Homo sapiens: one gene and its partners. Changing the gene in region 6 together with the main gene of any one other region gives a genetic interaction. Each region holds a gene or a part of one and is shown on either strand. Other genes may lie near its edges.

Region 1 (3,500 bases), on a different chromosome or scaffold from region 6:
GCTCTATAACAGAAAAAAAAAGGAAATAAAATATATTGAGAAAAAATATAAATAGGAATTCTGACACTTCACTTTTATATTTTTCCCTTTTAAAAACCTTTTTCATTTCCCCAGAATTTTGTAAATGCTTGCTGTCATGAAGCAATGAGATTAAATTTACTTAGTGCAGAATTAGGTCAATGGTAAATGATAAAGCTAGGAATAATCCATGTAACTGCTCAATATGAGGAACATAAAGAACACATTAACAACTAGAGATGCCCAAAAGTGGAATGAGTTTGCTGCCTCTGGAGTGAGTGTGCCGTCGCTGCAGGTGTTTAAGCAGAGACCAGACAGCATCTTGCCATAAATGTAGTTAAGGAACTAGGGAGTTGGACCACACACACTCATTACTCTGCCAACCCTAGAGGTTCCCAGGGCAAAGGCCACAGCAGTCATTATCCTGACCCTTAAGACTAACTTTATCCTAACATTGCATTGTATTTATTTGTTCACATGCCTTTCCTCACACTAGACTGTGCTGCTTGAAGCCAGAGATGGGGTCTGATTCATCTGTGCAGCCCTGGTGCCTACTATTATATCTGGATCATAGTAGCTGTTTTAAAATCCTGTTGAAATGGTGAATGAGCTAAATATTGCCTATTCTTATGCTTCACTACATTTTCATATCAAGTTTCTTTCTTCCCTTCTTTCTTTTTAAAACAGAGACAGGGTCTCACTCTTTTGCCTAAGCTGGAGTACAGTGGTGTGAACATAGCTCACTGCAGCCTTGACTCCTGAGCTCAGGAGACACTCCCACCTCAGCCTCCCTAGTAACTAGAACTACAGGCATGTGCCACCACATTAAGCTAATTTAAAAAAATTTTTTTGTAGAAATGGGGTCTTGCTATGTTCCCCAGGCTGGTCTCAAACCTACCAAAGTGCTGGGATTATAGGCGTGAGCCACCGCACCTGGCCTCTTATCAATTTTCAACTCATAGTTTCAAGCAAATCAGGCATCTACCATCATCTTCTCATGGAACAGTATAGAGTCACTTCGGCAAAGTATTATAGCTTAGTTTTTTTGGTTTGATTAGAAGTAGGGTGCTAAATTATGACCTCATAGTCTAACATTTCCAAACAATAAATTATTTTACAGAATGGATTTTTCTTAAGCAATAAAACTTATTTTTAAACAATTTAATGGAAATCTTTTCAAAAAATGTATTATTTATATCAGTGTTCCTCAACCTTTTTGGCACCAGGGACAGGTTTTGTGGAAGACAATTTTTCCATGGAACTGTGGAAAACTCGGGGGAGGAGGGGATGATTTCCGGATGAAACGCTTTCACTTCAGATCACCAGGCATTAGATTCTCATAAGGATTGCACAGCCTAGATCCTTCACATGTGCAATTCACAATAGGGTTTGCACTCCTATGAGAATCTAATGCTGCTGCTGATCTGACAGGAGGTGGAGCTCAGGTGGTAATGCTCGCCCACCACTCACCTCAGTTCCTAACAGGCCACAGATCAGTACTTGTCTGCAGCTCAGGGGTAGAGTATCCCTGATCTATATAACTTCTGCTTTCTCAAACAGCATTAACTGAACAGAATTTATCTTTACATAAGGGTGATTCAGGTAACCACCTTAAAAGGTGGTGTCCTAGGAAATAATGAGATGTTCAGGAAGCTTTTGTTTATAGTGTTCCAAGAATACTGTCCTTCATATTAATTTTGATTGTTTTTCAGGATCACAGGTTGTAAATATTATTTATTTAGTCAATTTATTCAACAAATACTTAGTGTGAACCTATATGTACCAGGCACTGTGTTAGGCACTGAGATGCAGAAATGAGCAAAATCAGAAACAGTTCCTGCTTTCATGGAGTTCACGATCTAGGGAAAGATGCAGCAGTAAATGGATCATCACACTGATGAAAATAATATGTTCTACCATGAAAAGTGAGAGGAATGAACAGTATGTGGGCTTTTAAGAACTTATCAAGAGGGCTTTGACTTAAGGGAGTCAGGGAAGGTTCCCTAAGGAAGTGAAGATTGAGCTGAGATCTGAACAAAGGGTACGACTAAGTAGGGAAAAGGGTAAGGAAGATCATTTCTGGCAGGGGAAACAATATATGAAGGTCCCTTTGCAGGAGGGGGCAAATGCACTTGAGTAGCAGAAAGCAATCCAGAGTAGAGGTGGTGGAACAGGGAGCAGGAGGTGGCTCTGTGGGGCAAGATGAGATTGGCAAAGGTTAGCAGAGGTCAGATTACATGGGGCCTCATGGGCCATGTTAAAATTTTTGTTTCAATTCTTATCCTAAGAGGAATGCAAAGTCATTGCATTTTAGGTGACAAGTAATCAAAACTAGGTATGGCAACATGACTCTTGAGCCACACAGTAAAGAAAATATAGGTAGGCCACAGTGGAGAACAAAATGTAAGTAGTACCTACCCACTCTCCCACTTTGCAAATAAGCCAGGTGAAGTAATTTGGCAGCTATGGGTTTGATCTGCCTTTGCCAGTGAGATCAGCAATTTTGGTCTGTGGAGGACACAGTAGATTCTACGGGATTAGCCTCTGGAATTCCAGTCGCGAATACCAGAGGATACTTTGCAATTAATATAGTGGAGTTTGTCAGTACCTTTTTCAGATATGCTTTATCATCTGCCACAATCTCTATTACTCACTTTCATTGTTTCGGGAAATCTAAAATTTACTGAAGACATCTTTTACCTGAGACAATGTGCAGCAGTCAGAATCCAACAGCCACCAATATAAATTCCCCCACAGGTGATTCCACTGGCATCCTTAATTGCCACCTGCCATGGGAGGTCTCCCTGTAAAAGACATTTGTGTGGTCACTGCCATTCTAACAGATAGCGATACAAACAGCCCTAAGATATTTCCATGGCAAGACTCCCAGTCTCTTATAATTACATCATCCTCCTGCCCCTTTCCCCCCAAATTTAGGCTGTTTCTGGGCAGTTGCATTGTGACTTTTCATGCGACTTTACCAGTTGTGCTCGCTTTCCTCCCACAATTCGTTTCCTTCGAATGTGCATTCTGTTTTTAACTCCACAAGATAGTTTAGGTAATAATGATTTTATCCGTCTTCTTTCTTCAAGAAAGGAAGAGATTACATCATTATTATCTTGAACCCATTAGCGTTTTTAACACACTTCTTGATTATCTATGCCACAAAAACAGGAGAGTCACAGCCAGTACAAGACAGGCTGGAATCATTAGTAAATTATTTTGAATGCTAAACCATACTATTCATCTTATTTAAAAATTCTGGCTTGATATTAAAATTGGCTTGATTCTCTGAAGTTCTGCCTAAAGATAGACTAGTGGCAGAAAAGGGCTGGCCAAGAGGTTAAACATTTACCAGCCTCTAGCTGATAAAGGATGCCACATGTCCAGGCACTGTGGCAGTGGCAGCTCAGAAGGGAATCACATTCTGAAATCATCAGGGTAAACTAACAACATGGCAAACTGTGTCTTTTCTTTTCTTT
Region 2 (3,500 bases), on a different chromosome or scaffold from region 6:
AACAAAACAAAAAACACAACAACAAAATAAACAACCTTGTCACTAAGTCTTTTCCAAAAGCAAAAAACCCTTCCGTTGAAGTTAATTATCCACCACAAAGCCTCTAAACCTGTTAAAGATAATTTTTCAGATCAGCTTTCTCCTCTCTGACTAAAGCATATTAATTTTCAAAATCTTTTAAATAAACCGTTTTTTTTTTTTTAAAGAGATGGGGTCTCGGCCAGGCATGGTGGCTCACGCCTGTAATCCTAGCACTTTGGGAGGCCAAGGTGGGCTGATCACGAAGTCAGGAGTTCAAGGCCAACCTGGCCAGTATGGTAAAGCCCCGCCTCTACTAAAAACAGAAAAATTAGCGGGCGTGGTGACGCGCGCCTGTAGCCCCAGCTGCTGGGGAGGCTGAGGCAGAATAGCTTGAACCCGGGAAGTGGGGGTTGCAGTGAGCTGAGATCATGCCACTATACTCCAGCGTGGGCGGCAAAGTGAGGCTCTGTCTCAAAAAAAAAAAGATAGGGTTTCACTATGTTGCTCAGGCTGGTCTCAAACTCCTGCTTAAGTGATCCTCTAGCCTCTGCCTCCCAAATTACTGAAGTGATGGGATTACAGGCATGAGGCACCCACCCGCCCCTCCTCCCTACCTTTTTTCAGACAAGGTCTCACTGTCGCTCAGGCCAGAGTGCAGTGGTGCAATCACAGATCACTGCAGCCTCGACCTCCTAGGCTCAAGCAACCCTCCCACCTCCACCTCCTAAGTAGCTGGGACCACCACACTTGGCTAATTTTTGTATTTTTTGTAGAGACAGGGTCTCCCTATGTTGCCCAGGCTGGTCTCGAACTCCTGGCTCAAACAATCCTCCCATCTTGGCCTCCCAAAGTGCTGGGATCATAGGTGTGAGCCATCATGCCAAGCCTAATTCTTAAAATCATTAATGTTGCAGCTTGAAAACTAAGTGGCAATGGCTTTACTATTCTTAGTCAATTTTCCTAATTTAAATTGAAAGTTCATAATGATAATAACAATGGCTATTAATTATTGAGAACTTACTATGTGACAGGTACCATGAGTGCTAAATGGTCTACATGGACTCTCTCACTAAAACTTAGCAAGTCACTGGGACAGTTGCTTTTATTATCTTCATTTACAAATGAAACTGTGGAACAGAAAGTAATATGGCCAATTATTAGTGGAGAAACTGGGATTCAAATTGGTACCTGAATGCAGACACCATACTCTCACTCAGATACCAGGTTAAGGCAGTCAAGAAACAAGCAGAAACAGCTGAATCTCAGGGTAAGACTCCCCATAAATGTGCAGAAAATCTGCCCTGAAATTCCAGTTATGTAAATCAGAAGTTCCCCCTACCCTTGCTGCATTTACTTTTGCTTTAAAGAGAGAGAATTCTTCACTATAAATCTTTTTTTAATAAAAAATCCCCCAGCAGCCAGGAACGGGGCTTCTCCCCACCTTTCTCAGTGGTGCCGGTCCCGTTCTCTATCCCGGTGTCTCTCATGCTCCCGGTTCCTTTCTTGGAAATAATCATCATGCCGATCTTCATTATGAAGCAGATCCCGGTGCCTCCTGCTGCTCTCCCGGGACCGGCTAGGTGACCTTTCCCGGGAGCGATGTCTTTTCCTATTAGAAAGATCCTTCAGCCTCACTCAGAAGGCCTACCACTTTCTTTCCAAGAATGTGGTGTTTTGGTGTCTTCTGATATTTGCCTAAACTATTCCTCTATTACTCTATCATGGGCCTGCTGTCTGAGGATTTTAGCTCTTTGAGGACTACTCTTTTTTGGGAAGATGATTAACAGGTAAATTTATCTGTTGAGAACTAATTTATCAGGTGTAGTGCTAATAATTTTGTATGGATTATCTGACCTAATCTTTACAACAGGTCTGTAAGATAAATACTATCAGTGTCCCTTTTTTAGAAAATGAGAAAAATAAGGCTTGGAAAGTTGACTAACTTCCATACACAAGAAGGTCATACAGATAGTTAGCAGCAGAACTGGGATTCCAATCCAAGCTTGTAGGGCTCCAAAACCCATGTTCTTAAAAATATCTGTCTGTATTTTTTCCTACATGAGCCCACTGCCTCACCCACCAGATTCCAGATGTTACAACACTTATTAATGAAAGCATCTGATTAGTTTCTTCCCCAAAAAGACATGAAGGCTAACGTCCAGACTTTCGGCCAGGTCTTTCCCAGATTCCCTGGGCTCCATTTGTCCCCACTCCCTATCCCTGGAAGAGTGCTGCTTGGGGCTGGTAGGTGAGGACACAATCACCAACTCACCTGGAAGAGCTCCCACTGGCACCCACACTGTAGGACTTGGCTTCGATGCCATGAAGACAGTCCTTAAGAGAGGAGATGAGGACACGGCAACGCTCATCATTGGCAACCCGGGACTGTTTGATAACCGCAATGGCTGTGAGCAGCGTCTCAATTGCGTCACTGTAATCCCCTGATAAAGGATGAAGGAGAAAGGCCAAGGGTGAGGAGAGATGGTAAACTAACTGGACCAAAAGGAGAACTCAGGCAGACACAAACCAAGAGTAGCTAGCCGTCCCAAACAACCGCGGTAAAAGAGACAAGGCAGATGTTGCAAGTGTAAAACTGGATGACACCTATATTCCAGCAGTTCGGAATTTAACAGATGTTGTCAGATGAACAAACTGACACACTGTTGTCCAGGGGCTATTTGACATCTATTAAAATAAACAATGTGCATATTTTTTGAGCCAGCAATTCTATTAAAAATTTTCTACTTCTGTTCACAAGTGTGTATGTTTAACAGTGTTTTAGTGTTTATTTTTTTTCATTTTTTTTTTTTTTGAGACAGTCTCACTCTGTTGCCCAGGCTGGAGTGCAGTGGCCGTGATCTCGGCTCACTGCAAGCTCCGCCTCCCAGGTTCACGCCATCCTCCTGCCTCAGCCTCCTGAGTAGCTGGGACTACAGGCGCCTGCCACCACACCCAGCTAATGTTTTGTATTATTAATAGAGACGGAGTTTCACCGTGTTAGCCAGGATGGTCTTGATCTCCTGACCCTGTGATCCGCCCGCCTTGGCCTCCCAAAGTGCTGGGATTACAGGCATGAGCCACTGCGCCCGGCCAGTGTTGTTTGTTATATTATCTTCAATAGGGTCTGGCTATATAAAGGAACATTGGTTCTACAGAATATTACATTATTAATGTACTATTAACAATTAAAAAAGCAGGAGGTAAACCTGTATGTAAACAAAGTAATCCATGTAAAGCCCTTAGCACAGTGCCAGGCACACAGTAAGGATCAATAAATGTTATGTTATATGTTGATATAATAGGTGTCCAGAATATACTAATTGAAACAAGCAAGTTTCAAAACCATATCCTGTTTTTGTAAAAACAATAAAAATTATATAAATTGTCATATGCATAGAAAAAATTCTGGAGGAATATAAACTATAAAAGGTGGTCTTATTGGTTGATGGTCCTTGTATAGAGGACTATTTTGTTTTTGA
Region 3 (4,000 bases), on a different chromosome or scaffold from region 6:
TGGAGTGCAATGGCACAATCTTGGCTCGCCGCAACCTCCACCTCCCGGGTTCAAGCTATTCTCTTGCCTCAGCCTCCCAAGTAGCTAGGATTACAGGCATGCACCACAAAGCCCGGCTAATTTTATATTTTTAGTAGAGGCAGGGTTTCTCCATGTTGGTCAGGCAGGTCTTGAACTCCTGACCTCAGGTGATCCACCCACCTCGGCCTCCCAAAGTGCTGGGGTTACAGGCGTGAGCCACTGCACCTGGCCTTCTTATTTTTTTTAAAACCAAGTCTTGCTCTGTTGCCCAGGTTGGAGTTCAGTGGTGCAATCTCGGCTCACTGCAACCTCTGCCTCCTCGGTTCAAGCAATTCTCCTGCCTCAGCCTCCAGAGTAGCTGGGATTACAGGCATGCACCACCACACCCGGCTAATTTTTGTATTTTCAGTAGAGACGGGGTTTCGCCATGTTGGCCAGGCTGGTCTTGAACTCCTGACCTCAGGTGCTCCTCTCGCCTCGGGCTCCCAAAGTGCTGGGATTCCAGGTGTGAGACACCGCATCCAGCTGGAACTTGTATTACAGGGCTGCTCTCCTCACCTGCCATAAATGGGATCCTGAGGCTGGGAATCTGAGAACCACAATTTGCAAATCAGGGCACTGATTCCCAATAGCCGCCCCAGGGAGGAAGGGTCTTGCAGCCCAGGTGGGACACAAAAATACAAAATCCAGAAGCTGAACGGGAAAATCGCCACTCCCTAAACTCTAAAATCAAACTATGGCCTGGTGTGCCCTAGCCCCTCCCGTTCAGGTCTGAAGGATCCTTAGAATAGCACTTCCTGGGAGGGGCACCTCTTAGCCCCTCTCTTCCTTCTTGGGCTCAGAGAGGTCCAGCAGCCTGAGGAGGTCACACAGCACAGCAGATCCTGAAATGATGGAGGTGGGGGAAGAACGCTGGGGGGAGGGCGGGTGGCTTATCTCCAGAATTGATGTCCTCCCCTCCCCTTCCTCCTTCCAGGCTCTGGGGCAGCGGTGGGGGGTGGGGGAGGGGTGTTCCCCAGCAAGGTGGTCTACAGTGGGAGAGGAGGAGGAACCAGTTTCTACCTGCTGCACTGGGGGTGGGGGTGTGTTTATGGGGAGGGTCCAGAGGTTCCCCGGGGGTCAGTGGTTTGAACCTAAACAGGCAAATTCAAGTCCCTAAGCCTCCGTTTTCTCTTCTGTGAAATGCGAGCCACTGTTGGGGCAAGTAAGGTGACAAGGTGGAGAAAGGCCCTAGGCAGTGCCCTGTACAGCGGAGACCCCGATCACAATTGTGATCACAGTCACAAGGGCTTGGGGCCGGTGGGCAGGGCACTTGGCTGTGCCTGTTGGTTGCAAAGGCACCTTCTGGATTATCAAGGGTAACAGATTTGCCAGGAAAAGAAAAGAGGCTGATGAAAGCGCCAGCTGACACAGTCCCCAGTTGTGATGAGCCAGGCAAACTTCTGGGCGCCTCGGCAATGCCAACTCATGTGATTGGCTGCCGGGTTTGTGGACTACATGCATAGTAATTTCTCGGCATTCGGAGGAGGCTGGGGGTGCTGGTGGTGGGGGGGAGGCGGCCTGTGCTGCAGACCCTGCCCTTTCCTGGGTGGGCGCCCTGAGAGGCGGGCACGCTGCTGTGCAGAAAGACGCCACCAAGACCGGCCTGGGGTCCTAATGGCCATGGGTTCTGTGGACCCAGATCCAGCCTTTGCCTTGCTGCGGGCACTGAAGCTCCAGCCCCCATGAGCAGTACTGTCCTCCCCGCTGGGTCTGGAATCCCTGACCAGAAAGGCGCTTGCACTCAACAGCCCCGAAGCCCACGCCACTTCCCACCTCCACCGCCTGGGGGGTGCGGGTGGAGGGAGGGGGTCGTGGGCACCGAGGCAGGAGCAGGAGGGGCTGGCTCAAGGTCACAGAGCAGGGGGGTGGAGGCGCACAGCGGGGCTGGAAGCCCACCCTGCTTGGCTAGACTCCTGGGGTTTCCCGCCTGTGCGGGGCAGCCCACCCCCAGACGTCCAGGCAGGGCCAATCTACCCCAGCCCTGGGTCCCTGAAGCCCGGCTCCCGGCCGGGCACGGCGTGGTTGGTGGGGGCGGGGGTGTCAAAGCAAAGCTCAGGGTCAGGAAAGCAGAGAGAGCCGCGACCCAGGGGTCTAGCGGGGGTCACGCCTGACCAAGGGTGGGGCGGGGGTCTGACCCAGGGCCGCCTGGCCGGTGAGGGGTTTGATGGAGAAAGGGCCTGCTCTAGGGGGCCCGAGGGCGCAGAGGCACAGTGCGGGGCCAGCCCAGGGGCGACCCTTGACTCAGGAGGACCTCAGTGGTGGAGAGGAGGAGCCCACCCCGGGGAGGGGGCGCGGAGGGAGGGGCTTGGCTGGGCAGCGGGGCGGAGGGCGAAGAAGGCGGCTGCAGGAGGGAGGAGGCCCTGCCCGAGGGGACCAATGCGGAGAGGGGCGGCGGGGTGGGCCTCGGTGGGGCGGGCTCGGCAGGGGGGCGCCCTCCGGGTGGGGGAGGGGAGGCGGCCGGGAGCTGTCCAAGGTGAGCGCGGAGGGGCCGGCCGGGCCCGGCGGGAAGGGACGGGGGACGCCCGGCGAGGGGCCCCGGAGCCACGCGGGGAAGGGCCCGGCCCCAAGGCCCGGGAGGCTGGGGCCGGGACAAAGGAGGGACGCGCGGCGGGGAGGACGGCCGGCTGGGGGCTGCGCAGGGACCCCCTCCCCGCCCCGGGCCGCCTACCTGGGCCCGCTGGTCCCTGCGGCGCCGCGGCCGCTGCTCCTGCCCGCTCCGGTGTCCGCTGGCGCCGCCGCCCCCCGCCCGCCCGAGCCGCCGCAGTCGCGCCCGCGCCGTCCCCGCCCGCCGGGCCCCGCGCTCCGCCCCGCCCCGCCCCGCCCCGCCCCGCCCCGGGGACCCGCGCCCACGGGGCCGGCGCGCCGCCCGGCCAAGGTCACCGCCGCCCCACGCGGGACCCCTGCCCGCGCCCGGGGTGGGAGAGGTCGCCAGGATCCGGGACCCCCGCCCTGCCACGTAGCCACCTGCGCGCGCCCTCCCTCGGGGTGGGAGCTGGGGCCGCTTCCCGGGGAACCCCGAGTGGGGGCCAGGAGCCCGGCTTGGGAGGAGCAGAGTCCAGCCGGGGGTGGAGGGCTTTGGCAGAAATGCGGATAAAGGGGGTGCAGAACGGGACCCCTGAGGCCGGCTGGGGCCCGGTCACACGCAGGGCGGGGAATCAGAGGGGTGCGTTGTGAAATGAGTAAGTCGATAATCAACAATCAATGAACAGGTTTAGAAGCGGGCAGAGGCGGGAGGGTTCAGGTCAATGGGGTGCACCTGGAGGCCCACCCATCCCAGGGGCCTGGGCAGGGGCGGGATGGGGGCAGAAGCGGACTCAGCGCTCTGTAGGGCTGGTTTTGTGGAGGCGGAGGCAGCCCATGGCAGTCAGGCCTAGGGAGGTGGGGGGTGAGCAAAGGGGGCTGGCGCTGCTCTGCAGCGGATGGGTTTGCCGTTTTCGGTTAGGAAAATGTTTGTGTTCCCCCAACAGGAGGTGTCTTAGGGGAGCACTGGCTTTTCTGATGCGTCTGTGTGTCCACAAGAGACCATGGTTCCGCCTCCATTTTGGAGACCGGGAGGCCGAGGTTCCTTTTGGCCTCATCGGGCAGATCCCAGAGGAGACTGGACTTTGGGGTCTAGTGACCAGGCCAGAAGGTGCTCTCAGGGGTGGGTGCGGGACAGTCCCAGGCCGCAAGGCTGTCAGAGGAAGGCGCCCCTTGGTGGAGAGGCCAACTCTGGGACCCACAGGGGTCTCTCCAGAGTCAGAGCCATCAGTGGGTGAGAGGCTGGTCTGGAAGGTGGTGAGCTCCCCATCACCAGGCCTGTGAGCAGGTGAACCCCTTGGGCCCTCAGCTCCTGGGGTTCTCCATGACCCACCATTTCCATGGCCCTGGATGAGGTGGGCCCATCTGCCTCTGCGGAGACTTGGCACTGCCTCCAAGACCACTCAGTCCCCTCTCC
Region 4 (3,500 bases), on a different chromosome or scaffold from region 6:
CACACTGCCTAAAAGTCCAAGACATTGATCCTTACCTGTGTCATTTTTCACATCATAAATATTGCATTCATGAAGATCGATGATGGGTGATATGGGGTAGAAGGTCTCTAGAACATGATTCTTAGTAGCTTCAATCTCCTCTCTGGAGGCGATGGTGGGCAGAGGATCCTTAGTGCTCAGTCGGGCTCCACCAGAACCACGGACTTGAAGGAGAAGAGACTCTAAAAGGGAGAAAAATGGTTACTCTAACCTGGTACTAAAGGCTTTCGCAGCTAGGCGCAGTAGCTCATGCCTATAATCCCAGCACTTTGGGAGGCCAAGGCAGGTGGATCATTGGAAGCCAGGAGTTCTAGGTCAGCCTGGGCAACATGACAAAGCCCCATCTCTACTAAAAAATACAAAAAATTGGCCAGGCATGGTAGGCTCACGCCTGTAATCCCAGCACTTTGGGAGGCTGAGGCGGGTGGATCACGAGGTCAGGATATCAAGACCATCCTGGCTAACGCGGTGAAACCCAGTCTCTACTAAAAACACAAAAAATTAGCCGGGCATGGTGGCTGGCACCTGTAGTCCCAGCTACTCGGGAGGCTGAGGCGGGAGAATGGCATGAACCTGGGAGGCGGAGCTTGCAGTGAGCTGAGATGACGGCACTGCACTCCAGCCTGGGTGACAGAGTGAAACTGTCTCAAAAAACTTAAAAAAAAAAAAAAAAAAAATTAAAGACTTTCTCAATCCTGCAAAGTCTAAAGCCTTCATCCTCCCATGTGCCTCAAGTCATTTATAGCATTTCTTGATCAGCCTAATCACAGAACACAAAACTTTGAGTTAGGATGTTAATCCTGGGATCCCTAAGAGGGGATGAACCAATGCACTCTTCTTCCTGTGTTCCCTTCCTAGTAAACCCTGAGGGCTGATGGTCTCTGGGGAGCGAAGCCTGCCCCATCCAGATCTTCCTGAGCACCTGCTGTAACCTGGGGAACCAGAGATGTGTGAGAGTTACTCTCTCCTCTCAAGGAGCCCACCAGGTAGTGAGTGCTACAGTGAAAAGGATGAAACATATTCAAAAATTGTACAGGTGGGGAAAACTGAACTTCTCTGGGAATGGGAAGTTCCCTGAAAGAAGCAATGCCTTAAAATGACATCTGGAAGGATGGATAAGAGCAGAGATTCTCAACTGCAGCACTATTCACATTTGGATCAGATAACTCTTTGGCGGAGTGGGGGGAGGGAATGTCCTGTGTACTGTGGGATGTTTAGCAGCATCCTGGCTTCTACTTACTAGATGCCATTTTAACTCCCTCCCCATCCCAACTCCCCACACCCCATCCACATCATGTCAAAGATGTCTCCACACACTGCCAAATGTTCTCCAGAGGGAAAAACTGTCCCTAGTTGAAAACCACTGGGTAAGAGCTTGCCAGGCAAAGAAAGGGGGAAAAGCACTCTAGTTAAGGAGGAATAATGTGCAAAAGTCAGGTGCAGGCAACTCCGTGGCAGAATTTAAGGAGAGAAATCCAGGTGACTAGAGTAGGATACAGCAGGGAAGAAGTGATGGAGAGAGAGAGGAGCACTGAGACTAGAGTTAGAGAGGAGATTCTTTTTTTTTTTTTTTTTTTTTGAGACGGAGTCTTGCTCTGTCGCCCAGGCTGGAGTGCAGTGGCGCAATCTCAGCTCACTGCAAGCTCCGCCTTCCGGGTTCACGCCATTCTCCCGCCTCAGCCTCCCGAGTAGCTGGGACTATGGGTGCCCATCACCATGCCCGGCTAATTTTTTTGTTTTTGTATTTTTAGTAGAGACCGGGTTTCACCGTGATAGCCAGGATGGTCTTGATCTCCTGACCTCATGATCCACCCACCTTGGCCTCCCAAAGTGCTGGGATTACAGGAATGAGCCACCGCACCCAGCCAAGGCAGAGGAGATTCTTAAACTTAGGAAAGGGGCCAGATTGTCCTTAACAACTGAGAGTGAGAAAACCCTAGCCAGTCAAACAGCCTCACTGAAGTCGGATTAGCATATATGCTACATGCAGACGTAGGTGACAAGAGGAAAACAAACTCACATCTGACTCATCAGCAAGCCAGCCATTGTGAACATGCATAGATGCCCTTCACAGAGGTCCCCACAGGAGGTCACATGCTACCACCAGACAAAATGTGCCTGGAAAAACACCTTGAGAATGGCCTCCTGAGGAGTATCCACGGAGGCAAATCTTTCTCAGAAGGTGCTTGGGTTTTCAGAAATAGCCACAGTGTGATGGTAATGGATCAAGGCCGGTTTTCTTGTATGTCTAAGAATTGGTTTGGTCAACAGCACTGTCATTAATTAGCATGTGGCCTCCCTTACTGGATAGGTAAGAAAGGGATACTACATCTGGGGGTGGATAAACTCTGATCTGTCACACCTCAAGAATAGTTTTCTAAAGTATTTCCTGTTTCCTCACATATAATCTGCAAGAAAAATAAATGTGCATGGACCTCTCTTAACCTTGGGTTTTCCATTCTCCCCACAGACCACTCTTGTGTGGTTTCTGATTCAATTCCCTCCATATCCCTCCTCCAGTGACAGCTCCAAATGGGGTAGTTTAATTAGAGGTAATACTTGATGATGGGCCAAGTACTCCTCTATTAATGAGGTTCACTAATTTCCTTAGTGGTGTCATTACCTCTGCAAAGCTGACTCATTGCCAGGAAGTCTATACACAAATCCTGACCAAGCAGATGTCCTGAAATCCCAGATCATTCCGTAGCTGGTTTTCCTGCTCCAGGATTCCACCAGTTAGAACACCTGTGTTCTCTGAACATCCCTGCCTGAAACACCAACAGTAGGTATATGCATTTACACATCCCTTCAGTCAGCACCTACTGTGTACCATGAACTGTTAGACACTGTGGACAATGTGAGTAAGATATGGTCCCAGCCATTAGGAGTTCAGTTGAGTGGGGTAGACAGAACCGACAGTAGATACTGACAATACAGTGTAATCTGTGCTATGATGGCAGAATGGGCATAAAGAACACAGAGGAGGAAAAGATACCCCAGCCTGGATTCACAGAGAAGGGGGGCTTGAGTGAAGTCTTGCAGATAAGGAGAATTTGGTTAAATGAAGAAAGCAGCGGGCCAAGCACGGTGGCTCACGCCTGTATTCCCGCAGTTTGGAAGGCCAAGGCGGGTGGATTGCCTGAGGTCAGGAGTTCAAGACCAGCCCGGCCAAAATAGTGAAACCCCGTCTCTACTAAAAATACACACACACACACACACACAAAAATTAGCTGGGCATGGTGGCGGGTACCTGTAATCCCAGCTACTTGAGAGGCTGAGACAGGAGAATCACTTGAACCCAGGATGCGGAGGTTGCAGTGAGCTGACGCCACTGCACTCCAGCCCAGGCAACAAGAGCAAAACTCCATCTGGAAAAAAAAAAAAAAGAAAAGAAAAGAAAGCAGAAAAGAGTATTCTAGGCCGGGAACAGTGGCTCATGTCTGTAATCCCAGCACTTTAGG
Region 5 (3,500 bases), on a different chromosome or scaffold from region 6:
TCTTGCCTTCTGCTAGCTTTTGAATGTGTTTGCTCTTGCTTCTCTAGTTCTTTTCATTGTGATGTTAGGGTGTCAATTTTAGATATTTCCTGCTTTCTCTTGTGGGCATTTAGTGCTATAAATTTCCCTCTACATACTGCTTTAAATGTGTCCCAGAAATTCTGGTATGTTGTGTCTTTGTTCTCATTGGTTTCAAAGAATATCTTTATTTCTGCCTTCATTTTGTTATGTACCCAGTAGTCATTCAGGAGCAGGTTATTCAGTTTCCATGTAGTTGAGTGGTTTTGAGTGAGTTTCTTAATCCTGAGTTCTAGTTTGATTGCACTGTGGTCTGAGAGACAGTTTGTTATAATTTCTATTCTTTTACATTTGCTGAGGAGTGCTTTACTTCCAACTATGTGGTCAATTTTGGAATAAGTGTGATGTGGTGCTGAGAAGAATGTATATTCTGTTGATTTGGGGTGGAGAGTTCTGTAGATGTCTATTAGGTCCTCTTGGTGAAGAGCTGAGTTCAATTCCTGGATATCCTAAGAACAAGGAATATTTATCTCCTGAAGAAACATAGCGAATGTAACACAATCCACATAATTTTATAATATTTTGATAGAGTTGTGATGAATTATCAGTCACATCCATAATGTAAATGGGCTTAACTCATCCATTAATGTTACCCATCCTAATGATTGTGAGGTAATATCTCATTGTAGTGTTGATTTATATTTCCCTAATAATTGGTGATAATGAACATCTTTTCATGGACTTATTGGCCATGTATATCTTCTTGGAAAAAAATCTCTATTCAAGTCCCTTGCTAATTTTTAGATAGAGTTATTTGTTGTTGGGTTTTAGGAGTTTTTAAAATACATTCTCAATATTAATCTCTATCAGATATGTAATTTCCAAATTACTTGGCCTTAAAAAGAGAGAAAATTCTGACACATGCTAAGACAGGGATGAACCTTGAAGACATTATGCTAAGTGAAATAAACCAATCACAGAAGGACAAATACCGTGTGATTCCACTTATATGAGGCACCTGACTAGTCAAATTCATAGAAACAGAAAGTAGAATGGTGGCTGCCAGAGCCTGGAGGGAGGCAGAAAGGGGAGTTATTCCTTAATGGTACAGAGTTTCAATTTGGGGTGATAGAAATAATTCTGGAGACACATGGTGGTGATGGTTAGACAGCATTATGAATATGTTTAACATCATGGAACTGTACAGTTAAAAATGGTTACCATGGCAAATTATGTTGTGGGTATTTTAGCACAATTTTAAAAATTGAAGAAAAAAGCAAATGAATAAAAATAAAAGTTTAAATGGTAAACTAAAAAATAAAGAATGGACAAAATATATCTTATTATTTAATATGAAAGCAGAGAGATAGTGGTCCTTATGGCAGAGAAAGAAATATCCAATCCTCAAAACATTAACATGACAAAGAAAGTATCTTTTCGATGCTAAAAGTTGGAATTCACAACGAAGATATAATATTCATAAAAATCTATGCACCAAATAACACAGGAATCACACTCATAAAGCAAAAACTACAGAAAATGCAAGGAGACACAGAAAAATATTTATAATAGAGAATTTTTACACTATTCTTAACAAAAGACAGGTTGAATAGGTGTAAAATGTAAGAGGAGACTTAAACAACATAATCAAAAGGTTGTTGTTATTAACACACACCAGATTCCAGTTAAATCTTGACACTGGAGAATACACCTGTTTCTCAAGTGCTTATGGAACATTCACAAAAATTGAATATATTTATGAAACCATGAGCAAATTTTGTAAAGTAAAACTATTACAAACAGTACTTTCTGATCACAGGGCAATAAAACTAGAAATTATTATGAAAAACAAAGACAAAATGCCCTGTTACCTGGGAATTGGAAAACTTTTGGTTAAAAGGGAAATACAAGCTAAAATGATAAATTTCTGGAAAATAATAATGAAAACACTATACATGAGAATCTGTGAAATACATTTAAAGAAACACAGCACTAAACACTTATTGGTAAAAGGAAAAAAATAAAAGAATTACTGAGGTCTAAAACTAGAAAAAGAGCAAGAAAGTGAACTATAAGAGAAAATAAAGAAGGTAATATTAGTGACAAAGGCAGAAATTAATGAGGTAAAGAAGAAAATACATCCTGGCTAACACGGTGAAACCCCGTCTCTACTAAAAATACAAAAAATTAGCTGGGCATGTTGGCGGATGCCTGTAGTCCCAGCTGCTCTGGAGGCTGAGGCGGGAGAATGGCGTGAACCCGGGAGGCGGAGCTTGCAGTGAGCCGAGATAGCGCCACTGCACTCCTGCCTGGGCGACACAGCGAGACTGTCTTAAAAAAAAAAAAAAAAAAAAAAAAGAAGAGAATACAATGGAGCTAATTAGTATATCAAAACACTGGATTTTGTCTTAAAATTTATATGGAATGAAAAAAGAGCTTGCATAGCCAAAGCAAGACTAAGCAAGAAGAACAAATCTGGAGGCATCACATTATCTGACTTTAAACTATACTATAAGGCTATAGTCACCCAAACAGAATGGTACTAGTATAAAAATAGGCACATAGACCAAAAGAACAGAATAGAGAACCCAGAAATAAAGCCAAGTCCTTACAGCCAACTGATCTTCAACAAAGCAAACAAAAAACATAAAGTGGAGAAAGGACACCCTATTCAACAAATGGTGCTGGTATAATTGACAAGCCACATGTAGAAGAATGAAACTGGATCCTTGTCTCTCAGCTTATACAAAAATCAACTCAAGATGGATAAAGGACTTAAATTTAAGACCTGAAACCATACCAATTCTAGAAGATAACATTGGAAAAAAACCTTCTAGACATTTGCTTAGGCAAAGACTTCATGAGCAAGAACCCAAATGCAAATACAACAAAAACAAAGATAGATGGGACTTAATGAAATGAAAAAGCTTCTGCACAGCAAGAGAAATAATCAGCAGAGTGAACAGACAATCCACAGAGTGGGAGAAAATCTTCACAATCTATACATTTGATAAAGGACTAATATCCAGAATCTACAATGAAAAAATCAGCAAGAAAAAACAAACAATCCCATCAAAAAGTGGGCTGAGGACATGAATAGACAATTCTCAAAAGAATATATACAAATGGCCAACGAACAGTTGAAAAAATGCTGAACATCACTAATGATCAGGGAAATACAAATCAAAACCACAATGCTATACCACCTCACTCCTGCAAGAGTGGCCATAATCAAAAAATCAAAAAATAATAGATGGTGATGTGGATGTGGTAAAAAGGGAATGCTTCTCCACTGCTGGTGGGAATGTAAAGTGGTACAACCACTATGGAAAACAGTGTGGAGATTCCTTAAAGAACTAAAAGTAGAACTACCATGTGATCCAGCAATCCTACTACTGCATATCTACCCAGAGGAAAAGAAGTTATTATATGAAAAAGACACTTGCACATACATGCTTATCACAGCACAATTTGCAATTGCA
Region 6 (4,147 bases):
ACACTCCCAGAAACCTTTTTTTTAATTAAGTATTATTTCAAAATTCTGTTTTTGGACAAAACCAAGAGCCATTCCAAAACGTTCAAGACCGTCAGCACTGATAGATGTTGAAGCAATTTACTCAGTCACAATTTAACAAACAGCTATATAAAATCAAAGCTAACCACTGAGGCACTATTTAACCATGTTTCCCTTTTTTCAGTAAGACTGGACTATTATTATTACAGTTCCTCATTCCCTAAAGTTAGCGTTTCTTTTCACCACTTTGTTACCAGTTCTCAAATTACTGTCCCAAAAAACTGTAGTCTACTCAAGAAATCTCACAAGGAGATATTTTTTCCTACAAGATGCTGCGGCCATTTGCACATTCTTATGCAAAAATTAACAACTTGACAGTCAAGCAGCACCTTCATAGCCCGTTTCAACCTATATATGGCCTAAATATATATGGCAAAAATACCAATATTGGTATTTTTGAAATGCACAAAGTTCCATTACTGTTCTGAGCAACTTTTAAAAGTCTGAAAACATTTAATTACATATTTCTTAAGATTAACAAAGTCAAATCCTTTTTCCATAAAAATCTTGCCAAAAAAAAAAATCAACCCCAAATTTCTCAATCTTCAAAACCAGTAAGGCACAAAATCTAAACCCACCGTTACCAAGAATGCACAAATGGGCAAGAACGTTTACTTACACATCTTCATGTCATCACAAAGGGAGGGGGATTAACTCCAGAAAGGAACCACCATAAAACAAACCTATGGACTCAAAACTCTCAACAGAATTCCTGCCAGCAACTTATAATCAAATATAGGATCCTTTTAACAGAAAACACTTGATCAAATTGCTAGAGAAGAGCAGCACGTTAACATGCGCGCAGATGACTCCGATTAGCAAGCTTTCAAGCACTTCAAAACTATATAGACTGCCACGCTTTCAAATGCCTAACTCAAGAATCTTTTCCATAAAGTTCGTCCCACTTCCGACTGTAGTACAAAAAACATCAACTCTTATCTTCCCTCAATGTCTTTTCCAGAGGGAGGCAAGGCTCAGCCGTCTTCCAGCTCAACGCTTCTCAACCTGAGCACTACTGACTTTAGGGGCATGATAATTCTTCGCTGAGAGGGGGCCGGGGCGGTTATCTTGGGCACTGCAGGACCTTCAGCAGCCTCTATACACTGGGTGCCCAACAACAGCCCCTTCTAGGAGAAGCCAACCAAAAACGTCCCCAGGCGTTGCCATCTGTCCCGGGGGGCGGAGGGAGGTGTCAAAATCGCCTCCGGTGGATCTAGCTAGAGCACCGCCGCGATTCTCAAGTTGCAAGGTATTCAAGGTTAGCAGCTGGGCTGGGGAGCAGAAAACACACTTGGAACGCAGGGCAGACACCCTGACGCAGGCGGCCCTTCCCTGAATCGGCAATGCAGCAAGGTTATCTTTACCTTTGTAGAGATTGGTGACGGCGGTGGCTGCGTTTTGGAAGGGGACCCAGAGAGAAAGTCCTGGCTGCTGACACACTCGGTCTGAAAAGCAAGCCAAAAAAAAAAAAAACCAAAAAGAAAAAAGAAACACACATAGAAAGAGAAAGAAAGAGAACAAGAATGTTATTTGCGCGTCAATCACTCCGGAACGGCCATATTAGGTTTCGCCATTTTGTTCAGGGGTTTCGGGATCCCAAACCCAGTGTGAGGACCGGGGGGGCAGGGAGGTCGCGGCGGGGAAAAGGGGATGCCGCAGAGCTCAGGGGCACAGATCAGGGACGAGCCGCGGCGCAGGGAAGCGCCCCCCCTGGCAGTCCCCGCCCCGAGGCCGGCTCAGGGCACAATGGGGCCGCCCCGCCGTCTCCCTTCGCCATTTTGTGACGGGGGCTCCTCCTCTCCCGTCTCCGGGCCGAGGGGGACACCGGGTGGCCGGGCCCGGAGAGCGGGGACCCTCGGACCACCCCAAAGCGGGGCTACCCCCACGCCGGCTCTGGCCTGTCCCCCCAACCCCGGGCCTCCCTCCCGCGGCGCCATCTTGCGGGGAGGGGGCGGCAGGGCCGCGGAGCCACCGGCCGGGATCCCCGAGGCCGCCGCCGTCGCGGCCCCCCGAAGCGGCCGCTGAGCCGATAGGGCCGGGGCCGGGCCCGGGCGGGGGCGGCCAAGCGGTACCAAGATGGCGGCGGCGGCCTCACCTTTGTAGAGCTGGGCCACGGCGGTGGCCGAGTTCTGGAAGAGGTGCCACAGCTTCTGCTGCTTGTGCTCGGGCTGCGCGGCGGCCGCCGCCTCCTCCTGCAGCTCGGGGGGCAGCTGCTCGTCCTGTTCGGCCTCGGCCAGGCACTGCCGCTCCCACTTGGAGAACCAGTGCTCGGGCCCGTGCTCCTGGATCTCGGCCTCGCCCTCCTCCTTCCGCTCCTCCATCCTCCGCGGCCTCCCGCGGCCTCGCCGCCACCGCCGCCGCGTCCTCCTCAGGCGGGGCCCCCGCGGGAGCGTCGTCGTCAAGCGGCCCGGCGGCAGGGCCTGGCGACCGACGGCGCCTTCTCCTTTCAGCGGCCCAGGCCTCCTGCACCCCGACGGCCGGCGAGCCCCGCCCCGCGGCCCCGTGCAACCAGGGACGACCCCCGCCCCAGGCCTTCCCACCCCCGGGCCCGGCCGAAGGTCGCCGCGGACCAGATAACCGCTGCCGCCCCTCGCCTCGGCCGCCGCAGCCTGTCTAACGCCCCCCCATGGCGCTGCGGCCTCCCCACTGCCGCCGCCGCCGCTGATCGCCGAGCCCTCCGCGCAGCTCGGCCTGCACCGCGGAGCCCACCCCAAGACTGAGCAACGTCGTCGTCGTCGCCACCGCCGAGGACGGCTCTGCGGCTGCTGGTCCCCGCCCTACCCCGCCCACATGCTGACAGGAGAAGCACCGCCCACTGGGCCCAAGCTACCCTGCCCGGTTGAGGCGTGGCCGCTCCAAGGGCCCCTATTAGTCGGATCCGGCCGGTTCCGCGTGGCGGCTTCTGAGCACAGCGTCGTGATTGGTTCTTCGGCCTGTCTGCCTGACGTAACCAATTGGCTGGGGGAAGGGAGTGAATGTCAGGAAGGATGAAGGAGGAGGAGGGGGAGGAGCTGACAGTGGTTGCGTCCGAGCCAAGGGGGCGGGTGGGGGGTGGAGGGGAAGAGCTAGAAGGGATGCGCATGCGCACTTGCTCGCTGCTCCCCCCCCCGCTCAGGGGCGTTGAGTGGGGATCACGTGACGAGGCCCAGCGACCGCACCCCGCGGGAGCTTTTCCGGCGTGTACAGGCCCTGGGGGGATGCAAAGTCGAGTGCGGCTCCTGTGCCGCGGGCACTGAGAGGTATAGTGGGTGGTAGCGTGCTTACTCCAGCCCCTGGGGCTCCCAAAGGGAGGAGGGTAGTAGAGAAAGTGAATAAAACGCCCAACTCGTGTCCAAGTTTGCAAAGCGCTTTCCTATTCTTTTGAGTACTCCCCCTTTTTTTTTTTTTTTTTTGAGACGGGGTCTTGCTACGTTGTCGAGGTCTAGACTGCTGGCCTCAGGCGATCTTCCAGCCTCCCAGGGCGCTGGGATTACAGGCTTGAGCCACCGCGCCCGGCCCAGAGTCCCATTTCTTAGACGGGCAAATCGACCATCACAGCCAAAGAAAAACTTCCGAGTTGCGAAGTCGGCTCAGTTGCCCCTGCGCCCTGGCGTCCCCCGAGGACGTCGCGCCTTCCGGGTGGACAGGACCTCGGCGGCCGCCCGCGGAGCCAAGGATAACCCGACGGCCGACGGTGCCCGGTGCCCGCACGCGTGCGTCTGCGCCTTTGCGCGCGCGGCGGCCCCCGCACCTGTCCCGAAAAGCACACTCCCAGGCCACGTGCATGCCCCGCGTCACGTACCGGCCCCTGCCTTCCCCGGCCCGAACCCGCGTGGCGGTGCCGAGCGCTGCGCCCGCCCCTACTCCCCCCGCAGTGCGCGATAGCTGGACGCCCCTGCGGCTGCGCGCCCCCCTCCCCTGTCGGGGCTTTCTCCAGGGTCTGAGGCCCCGGAGAAGGCAGCAACGCAGACAGGCGGTGACCGCACAGAGGCAAAACCCACCATCCCCACCTACATGCCCACGGGAGGCACCATCCGGCCTGGAGCGGCGGAGGGCGCCGGCCAGAGGCAGCGTCGCCCGCAGCCTGCGA
Region 7 (4,017 bases), on a different chromosome or scaffold from region 6:
TTAGAAAATTTTTTTTTTAATCTTTCAAGCTCTAATGATAAAATCCATTATACAATTAATGAAAAACTGAAGTTGAAATAACTGAACATATATATTGAAGGTGACAAACACAGGGAGAAGTAGTGCTGACTGGAACACAAATGTTTTAGACTCATGTGTCAATCACTTGAGAGATTCTCCCACCCCCATTCTGCTCACTAAAGTACTTGATCATCACTCTCCCAAAAGATACTGCACTTGCCCCCTGTGTGGCAGATGTGTATTTTGCTTTGCAAATTTATACACTCCCTCACTAGAGTGGATCTTTCCTGTACTTTGGGACAGTTATTCTCCTTCACAAGCCTGAGAGAAACCAGAGGGCAAGATGCATTTGTGCCTTTTCCCCTCAATATCAGCACCTGATTGGTTGACCACCAATGTGTCTGCAAGAAATGAAAACTAGGATTGAGGGGAAAAAAATCTTAATGTTAAAGCAGTTAGCTTTTTAGAGGAAGGGTGAATCAGGAAACTGCTCTCAGCACGAGGGCATCCAGCTGCTCCCCTGAGAGGCTCCACCCAATGCCTCAGGCTCTTCTCTGAAAGGAGATGACCCAGGGGCTAATGTTTGCTAGACACTCCAAGAGATATGGTCCTTGTGGGTATCTTGGATCATCCCCAGAAAGCTGTAATACTTGGACCAGGAAAACACAGGAGAGTGACTGAGGACACATCACCCTGCAAAGGATCCAAAGACATTCTGGGAAGGCGCGCGTGCCTAGAGAAGATGAGAGGAGATGCGCAGTGTCAGGTGACTACTCTTTGCTTTTCTGTCCTGTGAAATATGCACAAACAGACTAATATATTAAAAAGAGCCACCCACGGCTCTGTTAAACAAAAATAAACAAAATGCCACATCCGTTTTAAAATTAAATAAAGAACTGATAGTTCATAATGTGATTTGGAGAGGGATAGTTGGCATTTGGGAATGTGGGAAAGAAATTGGAAATTTAGAATTTTATACAGTCCCTAGAACAGTTAGGCTGGGAGAACAGTTTTAGATTTGAGACCCTGCTTGCCAAACATTTGAAAAATGCAGAGAAAACCAACGACCCTGTGGAGCATTAAAATAATTAAATAGCTAGCAATTAGGCTGAAGTGGCCATGGTGCCCTGGGATTCTGCCTAAGGAAACCTAACTACGTCGAAGGAATTTCTGGTAAATTATTAACTTTGAGAAACAACAACAACAACAACAAAACAACTTAGGCTTAACCAACCACAAGCTGCCAATAAAAAGCTCTAATTACATAACCAGGACATTTCCACCGGAGGGCTGCAAATGCAATACGTAACTGTAACCAATCAAATATTGAATCTGGTTTGCTTCCTCATACCTCTTAAAAAAAAAAAACAACCTTTTGTTCCAAGACCCTCCTTTGAGCCCCCAAACAACAAATCATAGCTGGGTGTTCTCTGATTGATAAATTACTGTTTGTGCAAGTAAACTATTTGTATTAATCGCTTCTGGCATTACTATAAATACCTCAGACTGGGTAATTTATAAGAGGATTAATTGGCTCATGGTTCCACAGGCTGCATAGAAAGCATAACACCAGCGTCTGCTTCTGGGGAGGCCCCACCCAGAAAGCTTAAAATCATGGATGAAGGTGAAGCAAGAGCTTGAAAAAGAGGCAAGGTGGGGTGCTGTACACTTCTAAATGATGAACTTCAGGGAACTCACTCACTATTGAGAGGACAATACCAAGAGGAATGGTGCTAAACTATTCGTGAGAAATCCGGGCCCACAATCCTTCCACCAGGCCCCACCTCCAACATGGGGGATTACATTTAAATAGGAGATTTGGGCTGGAAAACACATCCAAATTATATCCTAAAGTTGCCTCAATTTAGGCTAGGGTGGTGGGTCATGCACGTAATCCCGGCACTTTAGGAGGCCCGAGGCGGGCGGATCACCTGAGACCTGAGCTCGGGGAGTTCGAGACCAGCCTGAGCAACATGGCAAAAGCCTGTCTCTACAAAAACAAACAAAACAAAATAGGCGTGGTGGCGCACCCCTCTAGTCCTAGCTACTTGGGGGGCTGGGGTGAGAGGATCATCTGAGCCCAGTAGGTGGAGGCTGCAGTGAACCGAAATGCACTTTAGCCTGGGCAACAGAGTGAGACACTGTCTCAAAAATAAATAAATTTAAAAAAGGGCCATGATTTTATTTTTAAAAGGAGAAAGGAGGGACTAGGGACCCCACGGCCCACTGCTTCTTCCACGGAGGAACTCCAGACCCTAAATGAGAATTCCCGTCTTATGACACTCCCAACACCCCCACACAATCTGGAGGAGGGAGACTCGAGGTTGCGGCACAGAGCTGCCCAGGAAGGGATCTGAGCTGGGGAGAAATTCGAGTTTAGGGACAAAACAAGACGTAGCGTTTTGGCTGCTGGCTCAGCCCCTAATCTGCGATGGAGGGAAATGAGGATTGAGCTGTGCCCGCGGGGACTCGGGGATGCAGACTCCAGAGCAGACCGCGAGAAGGCCCAGATACCACCGCAGCCGGTTCCGGCCGGATTCAAACAGCCTCTTCCCCATTCTCGGGACACCCACTCCACGCACTCACCATTTCCCAGCCTCCAGATGTTCCGCCGTCCTCCCTATGGATCTCCCAGTACCTGCAGGTCACAGGATAACAGAAGCTATAGTAGAGTCACCGAGGAACTCCAGGAACGGAGGAGATGGAACAGTGGAGACGCGAACTAGGATCAGAGCCCGGAAGCTAGGAGACAAAGGCCCCGCCATATTGAAGAGGCCGCCTCTTCCTCTGTAGCTGCGCACTTGATTGGACAGTTTCACGCTGGCGCCACTGATTGGCTAGGGCTCCAGGCCCCACCCGTTTCAATCCTAAGTGACAGAAGATGTAATCAGACACTGGGCTGAATGAGGCAAGGGTGACAGGTTTTTGCCTGCAGCGTTTTCAGGCGAGTCCTCCCTGTGCTGGGGGCCTGGCCCTGCCTGAGAGACATTTGTATTTAACCTTGCATATAAGATTATATCACTTTCTGATTATATTTTCGTGTGTGTGTATATATTACATTCTGAATTATAGTTATGTGTATGCTGCAGGCCCTGTCTCAGCATCCTGTCTTTCCCTTTAGCTGCAGGAGATCAAAGTCCTCCAGGAGATGCAGCTGCTTCAGCTGGCTGTAGACAATTATCACCTTCAGTCTGTGAAGCAATTTTGGGTCTGCTTCCAATTAATGGAGTGTCTCAGTGAGACTGAGAGGTGAGGGCCTAGCAGATTGGTTAGAGGTGCCACTCGCCCAGGCCTCCCAAAACACCCTGTCTCTTTCCCACCAAAGCTGAGCCTGCCTGAGGACCTAAACAAGCATGGAGAACCAAGATGGGACCCTAGTCAGGGATAGTGCTGGGCTGTGGGGTAAAGTCAGCTAGGTCAGGGCCTCCAGGTGTGGGGAGGAGCCGGCCTCTTCTGTAGAGCCCTGGGCAAGTCACTGCCCTCTTTGGGCCTCTGTTTTCTTATCTAAAAAATGTAGGGATGATGAGCCTCACAGGGTAATGAGGAGCTTCAAAGGAGAAAAATTTGAGAGTGCTTGTGCCTGGCTCTTCCTGAGAGAGATGATGATGAGAACAATGGTGACGGCTACATATAACTGAGTCCTCACGAGGCCCAGTGAGGTAGGTGTGGTTCCCATCACACTTTCAAGTTGAGAAACAGTCTCAGGGAGGCCTGGCTGCATGCCCAAGGTTCCACACACAGTGAGTGTTGCAGCAGGGAGTGAATCTAGAATCAGAGTTTACTGGAGGTGGCAGGAGCACTGGACCAGCTTGACTCACACCAGTTATCCAGGGTACCAGGTCAATGTAACTGGGCATAACTGGGTGAAGGGAGCATAATATCACTGACCTTGTCCTTGACCCTGGCAGAGGAAGACACCCAAGTTGGCCACCCTAGAGAAGAAACCACAGAAAGCCCAGATGAGGCTAAAGCAGCAAAAAGGCAGGTACCTGTGAT

What was found.
Region 1: changes in HAPSTR1 (region 6) and CFI together harm fitness less than expected from each alone (positive genetic interaction), as found in Homo sapiens cells (one large-scale study listed by BioGRID).
Region 2: changes in HAPSTR1 (region 6) and CPSF7 together harm fitness less than expected from each alone (positive genetic interaction), as found in Homo sapiens cells (one large-scale study listed by BioGRID).
Region 3: changes in HAPSTR1 (region 6) and DIRAS1 together harm fitness less than expected from each alone (positive genetic interaction), as found in Homo sapiens cells (one large-scale study listed by BioGRID).
Region 4: changes in HAPSTR1 (region 6) and MRPL37 together harm fitness more than expected from each alone (negative genetic interaction), as found in Homo sapiens cells (one large-scale study listed by BioGRID).
Region 5: changes in HAPSTR1 (region 6) and SPACA7 together harm fitness less than expected from each alone (positive genetic interaction), as found in Homo sapiens cells (one large-scale study listed by BioGRID).
Region 7: changes in HAPSTR1 (region 6) and ZNF736 together harm fitness more than expected from each alone (negative genetic interaction), as found in Homo sapiens cells (one large-scale study listed by BioGRID).

What each region holds. Positions count from the first base shown.
Region 1 is NC_000004.12:109,746,500-109,749,999, forward strand, and holds part of CFI (complement factor I isoform 2 preproprotein), read right to left. Parts: intron 3,104-3,500; coding exon 3,000-3,103; intron 2,823-2,999; coding exon 2,719-2,822; intron 4-2,718; coding exon 1-3. UniProt on the Homo sapiens protein: Trypsin-like serine protease that plays an essential role in regulating the immune response by controlling all complement pathways.
Region 2 is NC_000011.10:61,409,476-61,412,975, forward strand, and holds part of CPSF7 (cleavage and polyadenylation specificity factor subunit 7), read right to left. Parts: intron 2,463-3,500; coding exon 2,294-2,462; intron 1,631-2,293; coding exon 1,468-1,630; 3' UTR 1,463-1,467; exon of another isoform or gene 1,106-1,462; intron 1-1,105.
Region 3 is NC_000019.10:2,718,573-2,722,572, forward strand, and holds the start of DIRAS1 (GTP-binding protein Di-Ras1), read right to left. Parts: upstream 2,801-4,000; 5' UTR 2,732-2,800; intron 906-2,731; exon of another isoform or gene 1-905. UniProt on the Homo sapiens protein: Displays low GTPase activity and exists predominantly in the GTP-bound form.
Region 4 is NC_000001.11:54,206,667-54,210,166, reverse strand, and holds part of MRPL37 (large ribosomal subunit protein mL37), read right to left. Parts: intron 222-3,500; coding exon 36-221; intron 1-35.
Region 5 is NC_000013.11:112,403,855-112,407,354, reverse strand, and holds part of SPACA7 (sperm acrosome-associated protein 7 precursor), read right to left. Parts: intron 1-3,500.
Region 6 is NC_000016.10:9,090,297-9,094,443, reverse strand, and holds the start of HAPSTR1 (HUWE1-associated protein modifying stress responses 1), read right to left. Parts: upstream 2,801-4,147; 5' UTR 2,400-2,800; coding exon 2,174-2,399; intron 1,524-2,173; coding exon 1,443-1,523; intron 1-1,442. UniProt on the Homo sapiens protein: Acts as a central player within a network of stress response pathways promoting cellular adaptability. The E3 ligase HUWE1 assists HAPSTR1 in controlling stress signaling and in turn, HUWE1 feeds back to promote the degradation of HAPSTR1.
Region 7 is NC_000007.14:64,312,744-64,316,760, reverse strand, and holds the start of ZNF736 (zinc finger protein 736), read right to left. Parts: upstream 2,801-4,017; 5' UTR 2,611-2,800; coding exon 2,608-2,610; intron 1-2,607. UniProt on the Homo sapiens protein: May be involved in transcriptional regulation.